Linked DNA regions of Homo sapiens. The protein of the gene in region 1 interacts with the protein of each later gene in a biochemical or structural test. Each region holds a gene or a part of one and is shown in the gene's direction. Other genes may lie near its edges.

Evidence for each region.
Region 2: the proteins of PALS2 (region 1) and GAGE12J interact in a test that uses a peptide from one of them, tested with the Homo sapiens proteins (one large-scale study listed by IntAct).
Region 3: the proteins of PALS2 (region 1) and HTR2A interact in a test that uses a peptide from one of them, tested with the Homo sapiens proteins (one large-scale study listed by IntAct).
Region 4: the proteins of PALS2 (region 1) and RAPGEF6 interact in a test that uses a peptide from one of them, tested with the Homo sapiens proteins (one large-scale study listed by IntAct).
Region 5: the proteins of PALS2 (region 1) and SLC34A1 interact in a test that uses a peptide from one of them, tested with the Homo sapiens proteins (one large-scale study listed by IntAct).
Region 6: the proteins of PALS2 (region 1) and KCNJ1 interact in a test that uses a peptide from one of them, tested with the Homo sapiens proteins (one large-scale study listed by IntAct).
Region 7: the proteins of PALS2 (region 1) and TRMT13 interact in a test that uses a peptide from one of them, tested with the Homo sapiens proteins (one large-scale study listed by IntAct).

The regions. Positions count from the first base shown.
Region 1 is NC_000007.14:24,691,573-24,694,693, forward strand, and holds the end of PALS2 (protein PALS2), read left to right. Parts: 3' UTR 1-2,621; downstream 2,622-3,121.
Region 2 is NC_000023.11:49,325,037-49,327,460, forward strand, and holds part of GAGE12J (G antigen 12J), read left to right. Parts: intron 1-1,653; coding exon 1,654-1,779; intron 1,780-2,424.
Region 3 is NC_000013.11:46,887,054-46,890,553, reverse strand, and holds part of HTR2A (5-hydroxytryptamine receptor 2A), read left to right. Parts: intron 1-3,500. UniProt on the Homo sapiens protein: G-protein coupled receptor for 5-hydroxytryptamine (serotonin).
Region 4 is NC_000005.10:131,457,230-131,460,729, reverse strand, and holds part of RAPGEF6 (rap guanine nucleotide exchange factor 6), read left to right. Parts: intron 1-3,500. UniProt on the Homo sapiens protein: Guanine nucleotide exchange factor (GEF) for Rap1A, Rap2A and M-Ras GTPases. Does not interact with cAMP.
Region 5 is NC_000005.10:177,394,434-177,396,890, forward strand, and holds part of SLC34A1 (sodium-dependent phosphate transport protein 2A), read left to right. Parts: intron 1-2,299; coding exon 2,300-2,416; intron 2,417-2,457.
Region 6 is NC_000011.10:128,840,409-128,843,296, reverse strand, and holds part of KCNJ1 (ATP-sensitive inward rectifier potassium channel 1), read left to right. Parts: intron 1-827; exon of another isoform or gene 828-879; coding exon of another isoform or gene 880-915; intron 916-2,888. UniProt on the Homo sapiens protein: Inward rectifier potassium channels are characterized by a greater tendency to allow potassium to flow into the cell rather than out of it.
Region 7 is NC_000001.11:100,146,663-100,150,162, forward strand, and holds part of TRMT13 (tRNA:m(4)X modification enzyme TRM13 homolog), read left to right. Parts: coding exon of another isoform or gene 1-10; exon of another isoform or gene 11-1,231; coding exon 1,232-1,664; exon of another isoform or gene 1,665-1,962; coding exon 1,963-2,158; 3' UTR 2,159-2,379; coding exon of another isoform or gene 2,380-2,435; 3' UTR 2,436-2,705; coding exon of another isoform or gene 2,706-2,773; 3' UTR 2,774-3,500. Other genes in the region: LRRC39 (leucine-rich repeat-containing protein 39), read right to left, coding at 2,706-2,773. UniProt on the Homo sapiens protein: tRNA methylase which 2'-O-methylates cytidine(4) in tRNA(Pro) and tRNA(Gly)(GCC), and adenosine(4) in tRNA(His).

The DNA.
Region 1 (3,121 bases):
CTTTTTTTAGATTGTTTTAAAACGCTCTGGTTCCACCTTGAAGCTGATAATCTTTCTGAAAAATATATGAGAAACTCAGAAAGTAGTCATTATTATAATAAATTTAATTTTCTTAGGGAAAAAGGGCAGGGTTCTGGATGGAAACCCCTTTGGAAATTCTTATTTAAACTTTTGAATGAATCTTTAATATGATTCAGGCTGAGATTATGATACCTGCCCTTGTCTTATTTCAAGAGGTTTGCTGTGAGAATTCATGTAATAACATCTGTAATGTATTTGGAATTTTTGGGAGAAATTCATTCTTTTAAATAATGGGATTATTGTATATAGTACAAATGAATACTCACAAAATTTAAGAATACATTTGACTAATAATTGAGCATCTTGTCAGTTTTTATGCAAGCATATATTGTATACCTGAGGAAGATGACAGTTCTATAATTTTTTTAAGGTAAGGTTATTTTTAAATTGCATTTTTGTTCTAACGTTTTGCAATTTATATTCTTTTTAAAATATTTCCCATAATTCATCATGCTAGCTTCTGTGTTCTTGGAATAGTTTTTGAAAAATGCAGAGATTCGAACATGAGTCCTTAATATACTAAACAGTGAAAGAATGATGATATCTCATTTCTAAAGTAAGCATGGTTCACACCACTTTGGCAATACACTGCAGTACTTTTTAAAAAATATTCTCTAGTGATAAAAGTAAAGACAGGGTACTGGCCAAGATCCTAATTCTGACTTCTGACTGTGTGATCTTCGATGAAATTTATATTTCCCTTTATCATTACTATTCTACTTGTTAAGTAAGGCTAAGTTAATATTTGTCTTCGCCTTAAATTCTGATTTGTAATTTGTAACTCTGATGTGGTAGCTGTGATATGGTGAACTGAAAAATCCTTATTAGGCTACTTTATCTGTTCTCTTTTAGTTATTTTAAAGTGTACCTGTTTCTGAAGTAATGTAGTGAATGGTGAATACTTTTCAGGAATTCTTCCAGTTTTAAAATAGCCCCAAAGATACAGTTTCAGCTGGTGGAAGGTCTGTTCTGCTCTCTTAGTCCTAATCAGAAAGTCCCTTTTATCTTATAATCCCATACTAAATCCAAACCCTTAGCAAATCCTTGCTGCCAACCAGACCACTCACAAATCAAACAAAATGTAAGCAAGCAATCCAGTACTCGGTTACACCAGAAGACTCTGATCTTTGCCCCCGAAAACTGTCCTACTTTATCCTTATACCTGAAATCACTGCATACCTGAAATCACTGCAGCCCTACTGTTTTACCCATACCATTAATTTAAAAAGGCATCTATTTCTTTATAGAAAGAAACATTCACAGTGAGGTCTTAGTTTGTGAACCTCAAAATCCAGATATTAATCCACTTTAGTTATTACTTTGTAATTGCTTCTCAGTCATTGGCTGATAATGCAATGGTGTGATAAATTTGACTTATCTCCACATACAAAAGTCGATCAGAAGGGATAGTTCTCTTCCTTTTTTTCCCCTCCTACTGGCTCTTACTGTTTTCTAATCTCCAGTGTAAATGGAATGAACACATCTATAGTTAAGGTAAATGCCACCAATCAGAAGATTGAGTGATTTACTGCTTGTAAAGCAACTGTCTTTGAATCTTATGAAATAGGTGGTGTTGCTACCACAGAAGCCAAAAAGGTCTTAAAATTGGAAATAGATGTCTTTATTGTACTTCAGCCAACAGCAAGCCAGGGGAAGGAACATACATAAATATGACAGGTCATATATGAAATTTGGCTCTCCTCCTATCAAAGTAGCCTAGGAGCTTGGAGGAAGCCTAATTAACTAAAACAGGAAAAAAGCATACTCATCTGATGTAAAAACTCATCAGCTGTAAATTACCAACATTAAACCAGAAGTCATTACCAGTTAAAATGTGTGGTTTTCATCTTATTCTTAAATAGGAGAGGTGGACAGTAGTGTAAGTAACATTGCTTTAAAGACATAAAGCTTGTCCTGGTAAACATGGTCTAAATGAGAAATGCCTCCATCTTTTCAGGTAGAACCAGATTTCAGGCATAGCTCAGCTACATCTGTATTTGAAATACAATAAAAATATTTCTTATGTCTCTGTATTCTCTTTTAAAAAGAACTGCTGACTGGCTCCTGTCTCTTCAGTAACACTGATTTTTTTTTAAAGAAGTGATATGTTGGACTCTGTTGTAGAAGAATGAGCACTAGTATTCAGCAACAAGTGCAATTTCTCCATGTTATGTTGAGCTCTGTTGGAGCCTATGGTGAGTATTTGATGTGAAAACCTTGCTGTGGGAATTTTTTATTCTTCCTTTTCCCCCCACGCCAGTTCGTTTTGGTAAGTCTTTTATTTGAACACAAGACGCATGCTTTTTTAAACCTCTAGTTTTTGAAGTAACTGTAGAAGAGAATCTTTAAAAAAAAAAATGGAGGGCAGAATGCTTGTTAGCAATCTGAAAATCAAAGCTGAACAAGCTGCTTAAAGTTTCTGATTAAGAAGTTTAAAAAGAAAAATTAATTGCTACTGCTTTCCAGGTAATTGTATTATTAGTTTCTGTATAAAAGAAACATTATTGCTGTTGTATAAATAAAATTTTCCTGTGGTACAATTAAGTATTGATTTTTCAGAAACTGTCCCTATAAATCTTTTCACATATTTCCATGTGCTGTCCAAAACAAAAATTATTGAAATGTCTAATCTGTGAGATTATATACTCCTGGTAAAATATTTTTGTATATATAAAGAAATATTTACTATTGGAAAAAAGTGTTTCATTTATAGGTAGAACTAAGGTTTAGAGATAATAATGGAGGATATCTGATTAGCGTTGATAATTTTTTTTAACTGTTTGCATTTTTTAACTTTTAGGTTTGGGGGCACATGTGAAGGTTTTGTTACATAGGTAAACACGTGTCACAGGGGTTTATTGTACATATTATTTCATCATCCAGATACTGAACCTGGTACCCAATAGTTATCTCTTCTGCTCCTCCCCCTCCTCCCACCCCCCACTCCAGTAGACCCCAGTGTCTGTTGTTTCCTTCTTTGTGTTTATAAGATACTATCATTTAGCTCCCACTTAGAAGTGAGAACATGCAGTATTTGGTT
Region 2 (2,424 bases), on another chromosome or scaffold:
ATTTAGGAGAAAGGTCTAAAGCTGGGCTGAATGCCATGCACTCATAGTCCCAGCTACTTGGGAGGCCGAGGTGAGAGGATTGCTTGAGTCCTGGAGTTCAAGCCCAGCCTGGGAAACACAGTGAGACCTCATCGCTAATAAATACATAAATGAATAAATAAATAAATACATAAATAAATTCATTAAATAAGTAAAGTTTTCATGGTATAGGAAAACACAGATGCAAAGTTTTTGTGCCTAGTGGCTGGTAATGTTGCAAACGTAACTCCTTAGTGAACTGTACCACTTAAAAATAGTTAAGATGGTAAATTTTAGGATATCTGTATTTTTTACCACAATTGGAAATTCCTTTCTTCCTAAAGTTCAGTGCAGTTATCATATATTCTTTTAAATTTTTACTGTATGTATCTTCAAGACATAGCATTCATAGAAAATTTGCAAGAATAGTACAATGAACTCATATACTGTTCATCTGGATTCACCAATTGTTAATAGCTTTCGCTTCATCAGTTTCACATCTCTTCCCTCCGTCTCTTACCGTGCTGCCCACACACTCACACACACACACACACACATACATACTGTTATTAATGCTGAATTGTCTCGATAAAGTTTCAGGTATTATGGTCCTTTACCCTATGTACTTGAGGGTGTGTATATCGTCAGAACAAAGAGAAAGTCATTTCTTGGATCATCACTGCACAAAGATGAAAATCAGGAAATTTAACAATGAGAAAATGGAGTCATTTAATACAGAGTGCATACTCAAATTTTGCCAGTTCCCCAGAAAATTTCTTTTTTCCTTTTTTTTTTTCTTTGTGTGAAGACGGAGTCTCTCTCTGTGGGCCAGGTTGGAGTGCAGTAGTGCGATCTCGGCTCACTGCAACCCACACCTCCCAGGTTCTAGGGATTCTCATGCCTCAGCCTCCCGTGTAGCTGGGACTACAGGCGCCGGCCACTGCGGGCTTGAACTTCTGGCCTCACCTGCTCTGCCCACCTTGGCATCCCAAAATGTTTGGATTGCAGGCGTGAGACCCCACGCCCGGCCCAGATAATTTTATTGATAGGATTTCTTTTTCTGATCCAGAGTCCAGTTCAGAATCACACCTTGCATGTGCTTTTCAGGTGTTTTTAGTTTCCTTTAACCTGTAATGTTTCCTTAATTTTTCTTGTCATTCACGATACGGACATTTTTGGAGAGGATAGACCAGTTGGTTTGCAGAATATTCTGCAGTTTGGGCTTTTTCATGTATTTTTAAAAGAGTTTTCTCACTCAGCGTTTATTGGTGGCTACTCATGCCATGTAAGAGTCTAAGCGCTAGGAGTGTAAGTGCTGTGAGAGACGGGATTTGAGCCTTGAGTCATTTAATACGAGAAGGACAATCAGAAGTAGAATAAGAGAGAAGTGCAAAGGAGGCAGCAAAGTTGTCTGAGGGCAGTCTTCGGAAAGGAAGAGGGTAATATTTGGAACACCTTGTTTTCCTGTTTTCTGCTAACGGACTCCTGAAATAATGTTCCTGGGATTCTTATCAACACATTTATTATTATGTTAGCTAAAGCTTTTATATAATAATACCGAGAGCGTGAATATTATTTTCTTATTCATGCGTTATGTTTTACTGCTTAAATTGATACGTATTTTTTATTTTTAAGGGCCGAAGCCTGAAGCTGATAGCCAGGAACAGGGTCACCCACAGACTGGGTGTGAGTGTGAAGATGGTCCTGATGGGCAGGAGATGGACCCGCCAAATCCAGAGGAGGTGAAAACGCCTGAAGAAGGTAGGCAATCCATTAGGCATGCACATTGTAGGGTGTCTGTTTCCACAGTATCATATTGTAAGTCTTACTATGTTTTTGAGACGGAGTCTCGCTCTGAAGACCAGGCTGGAGTGCAGTGGTGCCATCTCGGCTCACTGGAAATTCTGTCTCCAGGGTTCAAGTGATTCTCCTGCCTGAGCCTCTGGCGGAGCCGGGCTTACAGGCGGGCTCCGCCGCGCCCAGCTAATTGTTGTATTTTTAGTAGAGACAGGGTTTCGTTATGTTGCACAGGTTGTTCCCAAACTCCTGACCTCAGGTGATCCACCTGCCTCGACCATTGAAATTGCCGGGATTACAGGCGAGAGCCACCGTGCCCGACCCAGCATTATATTTTTAATAACAGAGAGGTAACAATACTGCGTCTTTAGTAACAGACTTCTTATATAAAGGTTATTTGAAACGTAGTTCAGGCCCCAGCACCCGACTGATAGACTGTCAGATAGGGAAACAAACTGAGTCAAAGCTATGTTGAATTAAAAGTTTTGAGTATAAATCCTTAAACCAGTAGCTCACAATTTTCAGATGCTTTTGTAAAGGTCTGCTTTTAATCAATACATAACACGTTTGTAACACCCATCACTTGGTGTGAAAAATGCTGAAGCACTC
Region 3 (3,500 bases), on another chromosome or scaffold:
TTCAGAGAACTCAGTTGCACAGGATGATATCACTTATAATCAGGAGTCAATATGGGTCAATCTGAGTCCAAAGCCCATGCTCTTTCCACTGCACAAAAGATAGCCAGAAAGAGCCAGAGGCAGACTATCACCACAGGAGGCAGGCAGGCTGGAATGATTGTGGTGGTGCCAGGCAGGGATCATTCATCCATCCACTTGGCCAGTCTTTTTGAGATGAAGTTTCGCTCTTGTTGCCCAGGCTGGAGTGCAATGGTGCTATCTTGGCTCACCGCAACCTCCGCCTCCCGCATTCAAGCTATTCTCCTGCCTCAGCCTCCTGAGTAGCTGGGATTACAGGCATGTGCCACCACGCCCGGCTAATTTTGCATTTTTAGTAGAGACAAGGTTTCTCCATGTTGGTCAGGCTAGTCTCGAACTCCCGACCTCAGGTGATCCCCCTACCTTGGCCTCCCAAAGTGCTGGGATTACAGTCATGAGCCACTGCCCCCACATTTGACCAGTCTTGTAATGTGCATCTACTATGTGTTTGGCACTGTATAGACCAAGATGAAAAAGATATGCATTCAAAGATCTCTCACAGTAAGGTAGGAGAAGACAAGGAAACAAAAGAATAAAAAAAAGTTACATAGAATCTATACTAGAAGTCTGAGGTGTGTGCCCTGAGGAGGGGGCAAGCGGAAAATGTAAAAAGGAAAAAGGCAGATCTAATGAAGGACCTACAGAGACTCAGCACAAATATTCTCTTGAGTTTTCTTCTAGTGTTTCTGTTTTGATTATTTTGCTTTGGGTTTAGTTTTTTGTTTGCTTTGTGTGTGGTTTCTTTTAATTTAGATCCTTAGTCTAGCTGGAATTTTAAAATATGATCTAACTTGTTTGCTTCTACTAGTAACTAAAGCTTTTTTTAGACTCAATTGATATTTTCTCTTCAAGCTATTGATATGTTCACTCTCTTGGTAAATTTCTAAATGTAATACTGTCTTACATTCCTGGAATATTGAGTTTGTATGACAAAGTTGGTTGGTTTATGATTCTTACAAGTTTTCTTTTTCTAGCTTTATTAAATGATAGAGAAGTTTCCACTTTCCCTAAGTCTTGAAGTCTTTAAGTAGAAATTACATGTTTTTGAGAGGTTATGTAGAACTTGGTTCCAAATCTCTTCATCCTGGCTCCTTTTTAAATAGTATTTTAAGTTACATTTCTAACTTCTATAGTTATTGCATTTACATTTTCTATACCTTCATGGGTTATTAGCTGCATACAAATTTTAACCTTTACATTGATTCTTTTATCATTAACTGTCCCACTTTATATCTAGTGATGCTTCTTGATTTAAAATCTATTTGATCTTAGTATAGCTACGTTAATTTTCTTTTGATTATCATTTTTGGATATATCTTATTTCATCCTGTTACTTTCAAACCTTTTGTGACTTTAAAGTGTTAGCCTGTAAGCAGCATATAAAGTTTTGTTTTTAACCCCATCTTTGTCTTTTAGTTGGAGTATTTAGTCCTTTTACATATAATGTTAACTCATATTTGGGTTTAAATCTGTTATCTTACAATTTGCTATTTTCTTATTTGTTCTATATTCTAGTTTCTTTTCATTCTTACCTTCTTTTGGACTAATCAAGAATTGTCAATTCATCATTCCCCTTTATGAGCTTGTTATCCATTGTTTTAAATTACTTCAATGATTACAACATTCCTTATTGACCTTAGAGTCTAAAACAAATTATTACTTGTAACACTTCTCGGATAGTGCAAAAACTTTAGAACCTTTTAGCTCCATCTATCCCTGTTGTCTTTTGGGTTTTTCCCTATTTACTAAATGTCTTTTTTAAACCCATAAGACATCATTATAGCCATTCTATTCACTATTTCTCACATATTAACCCCTGTTGCTGTTTATTGCTTTCTTCATTTTCATGATTTTGCCTGGGTTCCTCATTCCTGAAGAATTTCCTCTAGAATATCATGTCGTTTGTTCTGTTTTTCTTATCCTAAGCATCTTTATTTTGCTTTCATTTCAAACACATTTTTGTTCAGTATAGAATTCTAGGTTGACAGTCATCTTTTTTTTTTTTCAGCACTTCATAGGTGGCAAATCCAACATTCCAGGCTTATATTTTTTGTTTGTAAGAATCCAGCTGTCAGTCTTATTTTTATTCCTTCAGAAACATCACCTTGTGCCACGCCCTGCTGCTTCAGAATGTTTTGTCTCTATTTTAGCAACTTTATCATGATGTACTTAGTTGTGAATTAGTTTCTGTTTTTATCCTGCATGGTGTATGTACTGATTCTTAAACTTGTGACTTTGGCCACTTTGACAAAACTCTTGGTCACCATCTTTTCAAATATTGCTTCTGCCCCATTCTCTCTCTTCCTCATGTCTGGGACTCCAATCTCATGTATGCTAAACCTTTTACCTAAGTTCTTTATAACTCAAGCACTTCTACATTTTTTTTTTTGCTTTGTTCTTCAACTTTTAAGTTCAGGGGTACATGTGCAGGATGTGCAGGTTTGTTACATGGGTAAACGTGTGCCATGGTGGTTTGCTGCACAGATCATCCCATTACCCAGGTATTAAGCCCAGCATCCATTAGTTATTCTTCCTGATGCTCTCCCTCCCACCTCCCCCCACCAACAGGCCCCAGTGTGTGTTGATCCCCACCATGTGTCCACGTGTTCTCACGATTCAGCTCCCACATATTAGTGAGAACATGCAGTGTTAAACACTTCTACATTTTGTACATTTTTCTCCTTTTATTTCTTGAGATAGCTTTACTGACTTTTCTTCTTCTGTTACTAGTCCTCTCATCAGCTACTTCTAATCTGCCTAAGACCCATCTCTTGTTTTCTTAATTTTAATTCCTACACTTTTAGTTCTAGATTTTTTCATTTAATTCTTTATAAATTCCAGGTTTTTAGAATAATTCTCCATGTTTTCATCTATTTTCTTAAATATTAATCACAAGTTATCTGGATCTCTCTTTTCTGGGTTGTGGGATTACCTAGGGATTTCTCTTTTCTGAGTTTTGGGGTTGTTTTTCTCTTCATTCTGTCTGTTGATATGTCTGGTAATTTTTTTAATTGAGTACTGTGTATGCCTGATAATTTTTTTTTTTTTTTTTTGAGACAGAGTCTCACTCTGTCGCCCCCGCTGGAGTGCAGTGGCGCGATCTCGGCTCACTGCAAGCTCCACCTCCTGGGTTCACGCCATTCTCCTGCCTCAGCCTCCCAAGTAGCTGGGACTACAGGCGCCCGCCACCACACCCGGCTAAATTTTTTTTTGTATTTTTAGTAGAGATGGGGTTTCACCATGTTAGCCAGGATGGTCTCGATCTACTGACCTCATGATCCGCCCGCCTCGGCATCCCAAAGTGCCGGGATTACAGGCATGAGCCACTGCGCCTGGCCGCCTGGTAATTCTTTTTAATTGAATACTGGACACTGAAATAAAATGTTTGGGTGTTTTGTTGATACTGCCTTTCTCCAGAGTGG
Region 4 (3,500 bases), on another chromosome or scaffold:
TGAATAGAGATTAACAGAGTGGTCTTTAGAATCAGCTGCACCTGTATTTGAATCCTGCCTCTCCCATATAGTAGCAATGTGTCAGTGGAAAACTGAAGATAGGTTTTCTTATCTGTAAAATACCACCTATATCACAGTTTTTAAACAGCTAAGTCTAAAACAGAGGAATAAAGATGCCACTGATAAACACTTGGAAGGCTAGAAATGGAACCTGTTTGTAAAGGAAGCATCAAGTAAAGAATTTGAAAATTACGGGCTCAGTTTTAGAGTCCACTATGAAGAAAATTGATTGACACTGAGAGAATAGATCTCTGTATAAAAAAGAGGGTAGAAAGAAAGTGGTAGAGGTCTAAAAACCATACCTTAGTATGATGACTCAGTGTGAGGGTAAGGAAAAAGAGTCTAGCCAAAGAGATGGAGGATCAGTACAAGAAACAGAGTAGCACAGTTATGATAGTGTCATCAAAGCCAATGAAAGAGAGTGATTTGAGAGAAGATGTGATGGACAGTAGCCCAAAGAAGGGAGTGGATAGGAAAGGGCTGAGATTTGGTTAAGAGGCTTTGTTTGGTTAAAAGATTTGTTTTGTTACAAAGAATATTTGTTCTGCACATTTTCATAGCTCATGTAAAGATCATTGCTTTGTTTCTTTTGTATTCTTTTTAAGATAATTGTTTTGTATTCTTGTACTTCATGTTCAGGTAGATCAAAGAATATACTCTTTTCAGCAGAGATGGCAAAGGTGAATCATTCTGTTCTGGCTATAATTAACAACTTTTTATAATTATAAAATAATTTTAACTTTTTGAATAGACATGACATGTACATGGAAAAAATTTTAAAGATAAAGAGTACACAGCGAAAGTAACTTTGTCTCACCCAGTCCCTAATCCACCCAAATTCCTCTCCCCAGAGATACTGTTACCTTTTTTCATTCAAGAAATACTCTATCCATATAGCAAGCATATAAATATATATTTAAAACCACCTTGGCTAATTTTTTTAATTTATCTTGGAGATTATTTAAAATCAGTTCTTATAAAGTTGTCTCATATTTTTTAAACAACTATGAAGTACTCCTTTGTATTGTGGAGTGCACATTATGGATATTTCTAAATTTCCAGACTTTGGCTATTTAAAACAGTGTGTGGTGTTTACTTTTGCCATGTAGAAATTTTTTTATTTTTATGTAGATGTATTATTTTTTTTCCTGCTGGAGTTTCTGCATTTTGTGGTTAGTTAAGAACAAAGAATTGCCTAGGTTTGAATCCAGTGTTGGCACTTGTTGTCTATGTGAACTAAGTTTCCTCATTTGTCAAATGGGAAATCCTGGTAGTTCCTACCTAATAAGGTTAAGAGTATTCAATGAGCTAATACAATGAGAGCTCTTAGAACACCCTAGACAACATTTTTTATTAATCTTGAATTCATTTTTATGTAAACAGTGAGATAAAGAAATATATCTTTCTTTGTTCCAAATGACTTCTTCACCCAACATCATTAATCAATCTTTTTTTCTAAAATATGCAATGCCATCTATTATGTACTGAAATCTAACACATATTTGGGTTTATGTCTGCACTCATTGCTTCATTGATTTGTCTATTCATTTACTGTTTTAGTTGCTGAAGTGGTAAAATAGGTTTTAAGGTCTGATAGGGCTAGTCAAACCCCTTATGACTCTCTTCATACTTTTCTTTGGCTATTTCTGGCATGTTTATTTGTTTCATATCAACTTTAGAATCAATTTATGTAGTTCTTTTAAAAAGTTTTGTTGATGTCTGGGCGCGGTGGCTCACGCCTGTGATCCTGGCACTTTGGAGGCCAATGCAGGTGGATCACAAGTTCAGGAGTTCTAGACCAGCCTGACCAACATGGTGAAACCCCATCTCTACTAAAAATACAAAAAAATTAGCCAGGTATGGTGGCACATGCTTGTAATCCCAGCTACTCAGGAGGCTGAGGCAGGAGAATCACTTGAACCCAGGAGGTGGAGGTTGCAGTAAGCCAAGATCATGCCACTGCACTCCAGCCTGGGTGACAGAGCAAGACTCTGTCTCAAAAAAGAAAAGAAAAAGTTCTGTTGATGTTTTCATTGAGATTACATTAAATACCTAGATTACTTTAGTGGACATTTGATAGCTTTGTAACAATGGCTCTTGCCATCCAAGAACACTTATTCCACTTGTTTCAGTTTTCTTTTATTTCCTCTGTGGAGTTGTTTTATTAGTCTGTTTTCACACTGCTGTATAGAAATACCTGAGACTGTGTAATTTATAAAGAAAAGAGGTTTAATTAACTCACAGTTCCCCATGTCTGGGGAGGCCTTAGGAAACTTACTATCATAGTGGAAGGCGAAGGGCAAACATGGCGTGTCTTACATGGCAGCAGAGAGAGAGAGAGTGAGGGGGGAAGTGCCACACTTTTAAACCATCAGATCTCTTGAGAACTCACTGATTATCATGAGAACAGCGTAGGGGAAATCTGCCTCCATGACCCAGTCACCTCCCACTGCGTCCTTCCCCTGACATGTGGGGATTACAATTCCACGTGAAATTTGGGTGGGGACACAGAACCAAACCATATCAGTTTTTATAGTGGTGTTCATGTAAATCTTGAACATTTGTTTGAATGTTTAATATCTTTTATTGCTGTTGTGAATGGGATCCTTATATTATGAATGGGATCCTTAAGTTTTCTAATGGTTTCTGCCTAAGTATTCTAATGCATATGAATATCAGTGTTGTACCTAGTACCTTACTGCATTCTTCATGCTTCTAATAATTTTCAGTTAATATTTTGGGAGTTTTGAGTTAAACAATCTAATTTTCTTCAACTGATGATAACTTTACATCTCTCATTCCATTTATTAATAACTATTTCTCTATTTTGTCTATTTTCATCTGCTGGTGCTTCATATTAAATGATACCATTGTCCCTCAGTATCTGTGGGGCATTCGTTCCATGGCTCCTCACAGATAGCAAAATCCTCACATACTCAAGTCCTGCAGTTGACCCTGAGGAACTTGTGGATACATAAAGTCAGCATTAGCAGGTTTCACATCCAAGGAAACTGTATTTTTGATCCACATTTGGTTGTGAATGTGGAACACTCAGATACGGAGGGGTGACTGAATTTATTGAAAAAAATCTGCATATAAGTGGATCCATGCAGCAGTATTCCACGGTAGCAGGAGTTAGCCTTGTATGTGAATTGTTTTATCCTTTACTTTTTCTTAGTAAATGGAGATTGTGGCAGCATTAGGGCTGCTTACAACTCAGAGTGTCTCCCTTCTCTCCTGTCTCAAACAGATTTGTACCAAAGTGTATCACTGTGTGCTATGCCAAATAAAGGATTGTTGGCTTGGCATGGTGGCTCATGCCTGTAATCTCAGCACTTTGGGAAGCCAAGGCAGGCAGATTACTTGAGCTCAGGAATTCAAGACCAGCCTGGCCAACATGGTGAAACCCTGTCTGTACTAAAAATATAAAAATTAGCCAG
Region 5 (2,457 bases), on another chromosome or scaffold:
AATCAACAAAGAGTACTTAAGCCCCCATTGTGTGACAAGGGAGGTGTAGTGCCAGGTATACAGAGGTGAGACAAACAGAGTTGGGTCCTGCCCTGAGGGGCTCACAGCCCAGCAGGGGGAGGAAAGCAATGAAAAATACATGAGATTGGCAAATGGCTCACACCTGTAAATCCAGCACTTTGGGAGGCTGAAGCAGCAGGATCACTTGAGCCCAGGAGTCCAAGACCAGCTTGGGCAACATAGTGAGACTTTGTCTTTTTTTTTTTTTTTTTTTTTTTTGAGACAATTTCACTCTTATTGCCCAGGCTGGAGTGCAATGGCATGATCTTGGCTCACTGCAACCTCCACCTCCAGGGTTCAAGTGATTCTCCTGCCTCAGCCTCTCGAGTAGCTAGGATTACAGGTGCCGGCCACAACACCCGGCTAATTTTTTGTATTTTTAGTCGAGACAGGGTTTCACCATGTTGGCCAGGCTGGTCTCAAACTCCTCACCTGATGATCCACCCGCCTCAGCCTCTCAAAGTGCTAGGATTACAGGCATGAGCCACCGTGCCCGGCCGAGACTTTTGTCTTTACAAAAAATTTTAAAATTAGCTGGGCATGGTGGTGTGCTCCTATAGTCCCAGGTACCCAGGAGGCTGAGTGGGAGAATCGCTTGAGCCTAGCAGGTTGAGGCCGCAGTGAGCTATGATGGCACCACTGCACTCCGACCTGTGCAACAGAGTTCAAAAATAAATAAATAAATAAAAATAGAAAAAGAAAATGAATTAGGAATAGGAAGGAAAATGAATTAGGGGGATAAATTCAGAGAGAGGTACCTGCCAAGGACATAGCAAAAATGGCAGTGCAGTAGGGTGTGGAAGAGACGGTTTCCAATGCGCTGTTTGAGGCCGCTCAGTGCAGTTGGCATTTGAACAGACACAAGTAGCCACGATGCGGATGAAGAGCACTCTGGGTGGAGGAACAGTATGTGCAAAGGCTCAGAGGCAGGAACCAGCATGGCAGGTCCGTGGCACAGAAGGGTGGCCAGTAGCTGGCAGGAGCAGGGTAAGGGATTGCCTGAGTGGGGTCAGTGAGGTGGCACGGAAGGGGCCAGAGCATGGGGTCTCCAGGCTCTGCTCAGAGCCTGGACTTTATTGAGGGTAACATGAGCACTCAGAAGACTTGGGGTAAGGGAGCAACACCATTTGATTTTCATTTTCCCTTTTTTGTTTTTTGAGACAGAGTCTTACTTTGTCACCCAGGCTGGAGTGCAGTGGTGCAATCTCAGCTCACTGCAACCTCTGCCTCCCAGGTTCAAGTGATCCTCCCACTTCAGTCTCCTGAGTAAACTGGGATTACAGGTGTGCACCGCCACACTCAGCTAATTTTTGTATTTTTAGTAGAGACAGGGTTTTGCCATGTTGGCTAGGCTGGTCTTGAATACCTGGCCTCAAGTGAACCTCTCGCCTTGGCCTCCCAAAGTGCTGGGATTACAAGTGTGAGCCACCATGCCCAGCCTCTTCCTATTAACCATAAATTTTTTTTATAGAGATGGGCTCTCACTATGTTGGTCAGGCTAGTCTCGAACTCCCAGCCTCAGGTGATCCACCCAACTCAGCATCCCAAAGTGCTGGGATTATAGGTGTGAGCCACCTTGCCCAGCCTTGGTTTTCATTTTAAACTTCATGCACTGGGAGGGGCTGCATGACAAGTACTAGAATAAGGGGTATCATGGGGCTGTGGGAGCTCAGAGAAGGGAGAAAAAGTCTGCTCCAGAGCAGGGGGTCAGGGAAGGCTTTCCAGAGGAAGTGACATCCATGCTGAGTCTGAGGATGAATATTCAGATGCTGAGTAGGATATTCCCAGCAGAGGGAACAGCCCCATCAAAGGCACAGTTGCCTGACGGAGCCAGGCTGAGAAAGGCCTTCAATCCAGGAGCAAAGAGGCCAAGTGGAAGCAACTGCAGTGGGAGCAAACCCCCATGGAGGTCGTCTCTCCCAGTGCCCCCGCGGAGATCCGCTCTCCCAGTGCCCCCGCGGAGGTCCGCTCTCCCAGTGCCCCCGCGGAGGTCCTCTCTCCCAGTGCCCCCGCGGAGGTCCTCTCTCCCAGTGCCCCCGCGGAGGTCCGCTCTCCCAGTGCCCCCGCGGAGGTCCTCTCTCCCAGTGCCCCCGCGGAGGTCCTCTCTCCCAGTGCCCCCGCGGAGATCCGCTCTCCCAGTGCCCCCGCGGAGGTCCGCTCTCCCAGTGCCCCCGCGGAGGTCTGCTCTCCCAATGTCCCCGCTCTGACCCCAGCCTGCTGGGATGCGGTTTCCTTGCAGACTTCCCTGCCCCCTTCACCTGGGTCACAGGCTACTTTGCCATGGTGGTGGGCGCCAGCATGACCTTCGTGGTCCAGAGCAGTTCTGTGTTCACCTCGGCCATCACCCCACTCATCGGTGAGTGCCCATGTAGAGGTGGAGTGGGGTGGGCCAGGGCT
Region 6 (2,888 bases), on another chromosome or scaffold:
ACAATCTCTAATCACCTAAGAGTTCATAAAATACATATTGGCTCTGTCTGTGGTTAGATTAAATGCCATTATCTAAAAAAAGTAGGATCTGTGCAATAATAGGTCTGCCATGTGAATGACAGTTTTGGTTAGTGGATGAATTTATCCTGTATCATTGCATTCTCTAAGAATAATCCCTCTCACTCTGAACAAATAAATCAATAGCATTGGCTAACCCAGTGCATGTAAAAAACACCTTCAGTAAATGCCAGGTTTTCCCGAATAATAAAGACTTCCAACAATAAAGACTTCTTTTAAGTCTGTTTCTTACATAACTGTTGTATGGAGAGATTAACATGGTATCTTGTTTCTTCCTGGTGTGATCTTACTTTTGTCTTGTAAATATGTACTTATGTCTGTATGTTCACCTGCATCTTTGTGAACCCTTGGAAAACTCAGTATTTCAGTGGGTTTCAGAGAATAGGCCGGGAGATTGATGATAAGTAAGTGTTTCCGGCCAGTTGTTATTAGGCACAACTTTTAGGAGAAACAAGTGAGCGATAGAGCGTGGCCAAGGAGAGGAAGGCAATGCTGGAACCCAATCCATGCCTGCTGCCCAGAGACCTTAGCTGATGGCTTGTCATGTCTTAGCATGTTGGTATTCAAGCCATGTGATGTTGGAAAGAAAAAATACCTATTCAGCTTGGGGCTTGGTCTGAGAACAACCAATTGCCTTGGTTTAAATCACACGACTCCACTATCAAATTAAGTGTTTCCAAGTTTACACAAATTAGCGTCAGTCCACTGACTGTCGCCTACAATAAATTAGGCTGAGTCTAAAAGAAATCAGTCTGCATAGAAAGACCAACAACCAGCACCACTTCCTTGCTTTTTCCAGCCATGAATGCTTCCAGTCGGAATGTGTTTGACACGTTGGTAAGTGGAGGCTGGGGAAATCACCTCTCTGGAAAGCCAGGCAGATAATGTTTCATCATTAATGCAGTCATGGAAACTCAACGTTATTCAAGTGATCAATCAGGGGGTACTTCTTCACTCTACAGAAATCTTCTTTACCTTTAAAAGTAAAATGAAATTAAGGGAGGCTAGAGGAGCAGGGTGCTGGGAAAAAAACTCAGAAGTTGGTGTGTTAGGAGCCATCTCTGGAATTATAATGTATGACAAAGAGAATGTGGATTCAATTGATAAATGTTGGTTTTAGAATTTACTATTTGAGCTGAGAGTCACTCTCTGGAGAGCTGGGTAAACAGTGTGACCCTGAATGCACCTGGGAGAGAGGTCAGTCCACATGGGTGTAGACCAGGGTAAAGGATGTGTGTACAAGGAAAGGAGAAGACCATTTCCTTCTCTGTACCTCACATGCACCATCCCCTAATCCTCACTGGGGACTTGAGGTCAGTGAGGGCAGTGTGGGATGAGAGGAGGGCCCTCTTGACTATGTGCATTGCTGTTTATTCTCTTGGCAGCATTTTCTTTTTTTATGTCTTTAGAACCTGCCCTCAACATTTCAAATCACCACAGCTGTGGTTTTCTCATCACCGCTTCGACTTGGCGTTGGCTTCTTGTGTTTTCAGCTGGGTTAAGGCCTTGAACAAGACACTGTGGGATATCACTATTATTTAAAATGTATCACTCAGTTGGTTTCGCTTCCTAGTTCTTACGAATAAACACATTTTTCAAGGGGGATTTTGAAATCTATTTTAAAAACATATTTGCATTTAATGAAAAATACCCTGAAGACATTGCGGACCAGGGTGGGCACACCTTGATATTCTTGGGCATGGGGGAGGAGGTAATCTAGCGTTTATGACTTTGGGTTTCACCACTGTCAGGTGTTTATGGGACAGGCCCTTCACCATTTTGCTGTACAATGGAAGTCACAGTAATGTCATCTATAAAAAATCAATTGAGCAAATAGGATTTTGAAAAATGTAATTCATTCACTGAATTATTTCATTTACGTTTACTGAATAAACAGTAGGCACTCATCAACTGTGCTAGCAATTGTGATATAGGAATGAATAAAGTATGGTCTGTCTTTATGGAGTATTACTTAAATCAGTGCTCCCCAGTCCTCCAGCTTTGGAGTAGGGAAGGAAGTGTTAGATGTGTTGATGGTGGCTCTCATACTATTCCTTTTGGGAATCTTGGGAAACCGTGGGGAGAGAGTAGGAACAGGCTTGTAGATTTATGGAGAAGCCCTATGAGACCATCTGGTTGGATCTGAGCTCTGTTCTAAATAGTGTTCAGCATTTAACAAAAAGAAATATGACCAATACTTGTCTGAAAATATTTTAGGGAAGTGTGACTTTAGAATATAACATTTGATAACTGAGACACGGAGTGGTAGAAGCTCCCCTAGACTAGAGGCAGGGAGCCCTATATTCTAGTTGTCATCCTGCCACTGGCTAGGTACATGCATTTGGACAAGTTATTTAAATTTTCTAAATCTCAGTTTTCTCATTTGATAAATGAGAGAACAGAATTGAATTAGGATTTTTCTTGATATATGAGTATCAATAGAAGTACATAGATGATTTAGGTAGTATATTGATGAGTGTTTTATTGGTCAGTTATTCATTTTTCTATATCTCAAAAACATACATAATGCTTCAAGTTTGTGATTTCTCAGAAATTATTGCTTAACATAAGGCTAAACTTATGAGAAGGTGATTTAAGTAATATTCAATAAATAAAAATACAGGTCATAATTGGTTATTACAAACATATTTAAGGTTGTGTGAGACTAATTGAGGTCAGGAAACACTTGAATATATAATCACTTAGTTTGTCTTCATTTCTAGCTCTCTGTAATTATTTTGCCTCTTTATGTTTGAGTAACATGGTCTTCCAGTGGAAAGTTTCTATCAGAAATAGCATTGTGGTATCCA
Region 7 (3,500 bases), on another chromosome or scaffold:
GCCCGGCTAATTTTTGTATTTTTAGTAGAGACGGGATTTCACCGTGTTAGCCAGGAAGGTCTCCATCTCCTGACCTCGTGATCTGCCCACCTCAGCCGGCGTGAGCTACTGCGCCTGGCCTGAAATAACTTAATTCTTTTAATAATTTATCTGGTTATTCACATTTCTGAAAATCACTTACTTAAGTCAAATATGAATAAAACAATGACTAAATGTATTTTGTCAGAAAATAATAGTTTATGAAATAATAGATTAGCTATCACTTTCTGCAAATAATGGGTTTCTAATGTTTGTTGACTTAAATTCATATATTGAATTAAATTTACTAGTGAAATATCAGATCATTTAATAGTCATTTGTGATATCTTAGGGTAATAAAATTTTAAAATATGTATATGTTTTTGATTGAACAGACACAACATGACAATCTAATGATTAAGAAGATATGGGTCCTACATTTTGGGTCTTTCCAGTATTGTCAACAGTGTAGGAGTTTTCGATGGGAAATAGCCATAGTCATCAAAAATCCATTTATTTAGTTTTAAAATATACTAAAATATTTTCATTGTAATGTGGAGTACATCTGCCTCTTAAGTTTGTGTATATTAATAATTGTATCCTCAGTGCTTTGCACATGAAAGGCATTCAGTAAATGTTTGTTAAATAAATGAATAAATACAGTAAGGCTACTCAGTGAGGCCTGCTTTCCAGATTCTGTTCTGACGCCCTCTTTTCAACTCTTCAGTTCATCACTATTTGCTATGAGCCTCTTCAAGACAAGCATCTTGACCTAGCATCAACCTAAACAGATTTGTCTGCCCTTCCTCCCTCCCTTCCTTCCTTCCTTCATTTTTCCTTTCTTAAACTAGAATGTAAGTGTAGGTGAATAAAGTTTTCCCATACAAGTCATTTCCTCAGCTAAGGTAGGAAAAGTGAGAGACAATTCAGGTAGTTGGGTAAAAGTTCTTCAAATTGTAGATCTTAAGCTTCAGATAGCTTTATTGGGAAGTAGGCTTTATGCAGAATAAATCATTAAAGAAATTGAGAAGATAGAAGAGCAAATTTGAATGAAGTTGATAATTCATGATAGTATTATTACAAATATAAAGCTGAGTAGGTTTTTGCTGTTTTTATTGTTGAGTTTTTAAAAACAGTACTGCTTAATAAATGTAAAAAGTATTTATTTTTAAAGATGATGTGGTTTGGGGGGGCCACATAATTGTGTTTGCAGATCTTGCATTACGATGTTTGGTTGAAACCTATGCTGCCAGTTTTGAGGAAAGGAATGAAGAACCTTTAGCCAAACGCATAAAGAATGATAAAACAGAAAAAGAAATTTACACTTTGGCCAAGGAAGGAAATGAAAAAAATGTCCCAGAGAAGTGGAACCCTGTGGCTGGCATTGTTATTGCACTCTGTTGTCACCACAGGTGTGATTGGAGACATTATGTGGGCAAAGAATATTTCAGGGCTCTAGGCCTTGGAGCAGTGGAATTCCATTATTTCCAGCGAATGAGTAGTTGGGCAACTTGTGGGATGCGGAAAACATCTTTGGAAACCTCAAATAGTACCACAAAGAGGCAAGATAATCAGAATGATGATAGTGAAGAGCATGATGATGGAGGATACAGAATCACAGATGATGGCGCTGATTGTTTGCCTGGGTAAGAGACTACTTTTGTAATGCATGATACTAAAGGAGAAATATTATATTGTACTGTACTTTAGATGACTATTATCAACAATTCATGAAAATGTATTTTATAATCTAATTTTAGAATAAGCTAAAATATACACATCTTTTATTGTGGTCATAAATATAATGTGTCTTGGAAGCATGGGACAAAGTACTTAGTACATTATGGGTTAGTTAACAGTCTCTCAATAAATAGTGACAAAAATAATTTTTTATAAACTTTTGCAAAATTTTAACAATGTTTTGTGTGTGTTTATTCAATTTAGGCTTCTTAGTGTTGAAGAAAAGAAGAAAATAGGGCATCTTTGTAAATTGCTGATTGACCAAGGTCGAATCCAGTATTTGCAGCAGAAGGGATTCAGTCCTGCTTTGCAGTACTATACAGACCCTCTGGTGTCTTTGGAAAATGTTTTGTTAACTGCTTTACCAAATCATTCTTCATCACCAGAAACAACTGCTTAATGGAAAAGAAATTTGAGCATCATCTGTCTTCCACCAAAAAAAATTTTTTAATTATATTTTTATATCAAAAAAATATATACTTTAAATAGCAAATAATATGAACTTTAAAAAATGCTGTGGCCTCATTAAACTTTGGTAATAGCTTTTCTTTTTACTTCAGAAATCCAAACATTAGAGAATTCACCAAAGTAATCCTCTTTAGAAGGGCATCTTGAATTATATTATCCATCCGTATTTATGGAGATTGGTAAAGTAGTTGAACCGTTGACTTGGTGATCTGAAACATACATAACATGTCAACACATAATTAGCGTATTTCTGTTTGTATTAATTTTGGAAATTTATCTTCCTTTGATTTTATTTAATATTTTTTATTTCTTAAGTTCAAGAGGTAGTGATTGATTGTAACAAGGGCCAATCTGAGAATTTGACTTATATGTGGACATTTTTCCCTACAGATCTGGAAAGCACAATTGTGATTTTCTCAAATGCAGACAATTCAGAGATATTCACAATTAATAAACACAATTAATTAATGAAGTCACCTTCAAATTTCCAGAGCCATACATGTATATATTGTCAGAATCTGTCCATGACAAACACAAAACTGAAGAGCTGTTTTCAAAGAAAAAAGATTATTTCACTTAATTATTTTGTTGGATAATTGTCTAGTTAGAACTTCCAAAAAGATACTTACAAACATAATTCACAAATTTGAAATAATTTCTGAAGTTGATTAGCTATCTCATATCTTTTATCAGGTCATTTTTTATATATGTAGGCACAAACAATAAGTATGTTCTCTTCTGTTTGGGAAAATAATTTGGAATAAAATAGAAATTAGATAATGAAACCAAAAACCTTCTCAAATTTAGGCCTTATTTAACTCATGACTGGTTTCTATGCACAAGAAAATACTAAACCAAATATATGGTAGGACTGTTATTCTCTTCTGCATCTTATCCCTATTTTGTTTCTGCCTTTATTTGTAAAAATTGTCTTAATTGATGGTACATTTGCCAAGACAAAGGTTCAGAATTACTAATTTTAGATATTATGATATTCTGAAATAACTATTTTTATCCTGTAGTTCTATGATTATATGATTTGTAAATAAGAAGCCTAACCAATTTAAAATTCCTGACTTTAGTCTCATATATCTTGTCAGACTGTCTCGGTTCAAATTCCAAACCTACCATCTTCAGTTGTGCGACCTTGGGCATGCTACCTAATCTCTTTGTGCCTCAATTTCCTCCTTTTAAAATGGGGATGATGATGATAACAATAATACCTACCTCACAAGGTTGTTGTGAGCATCAAATGAGATAACACAAGTAAAATG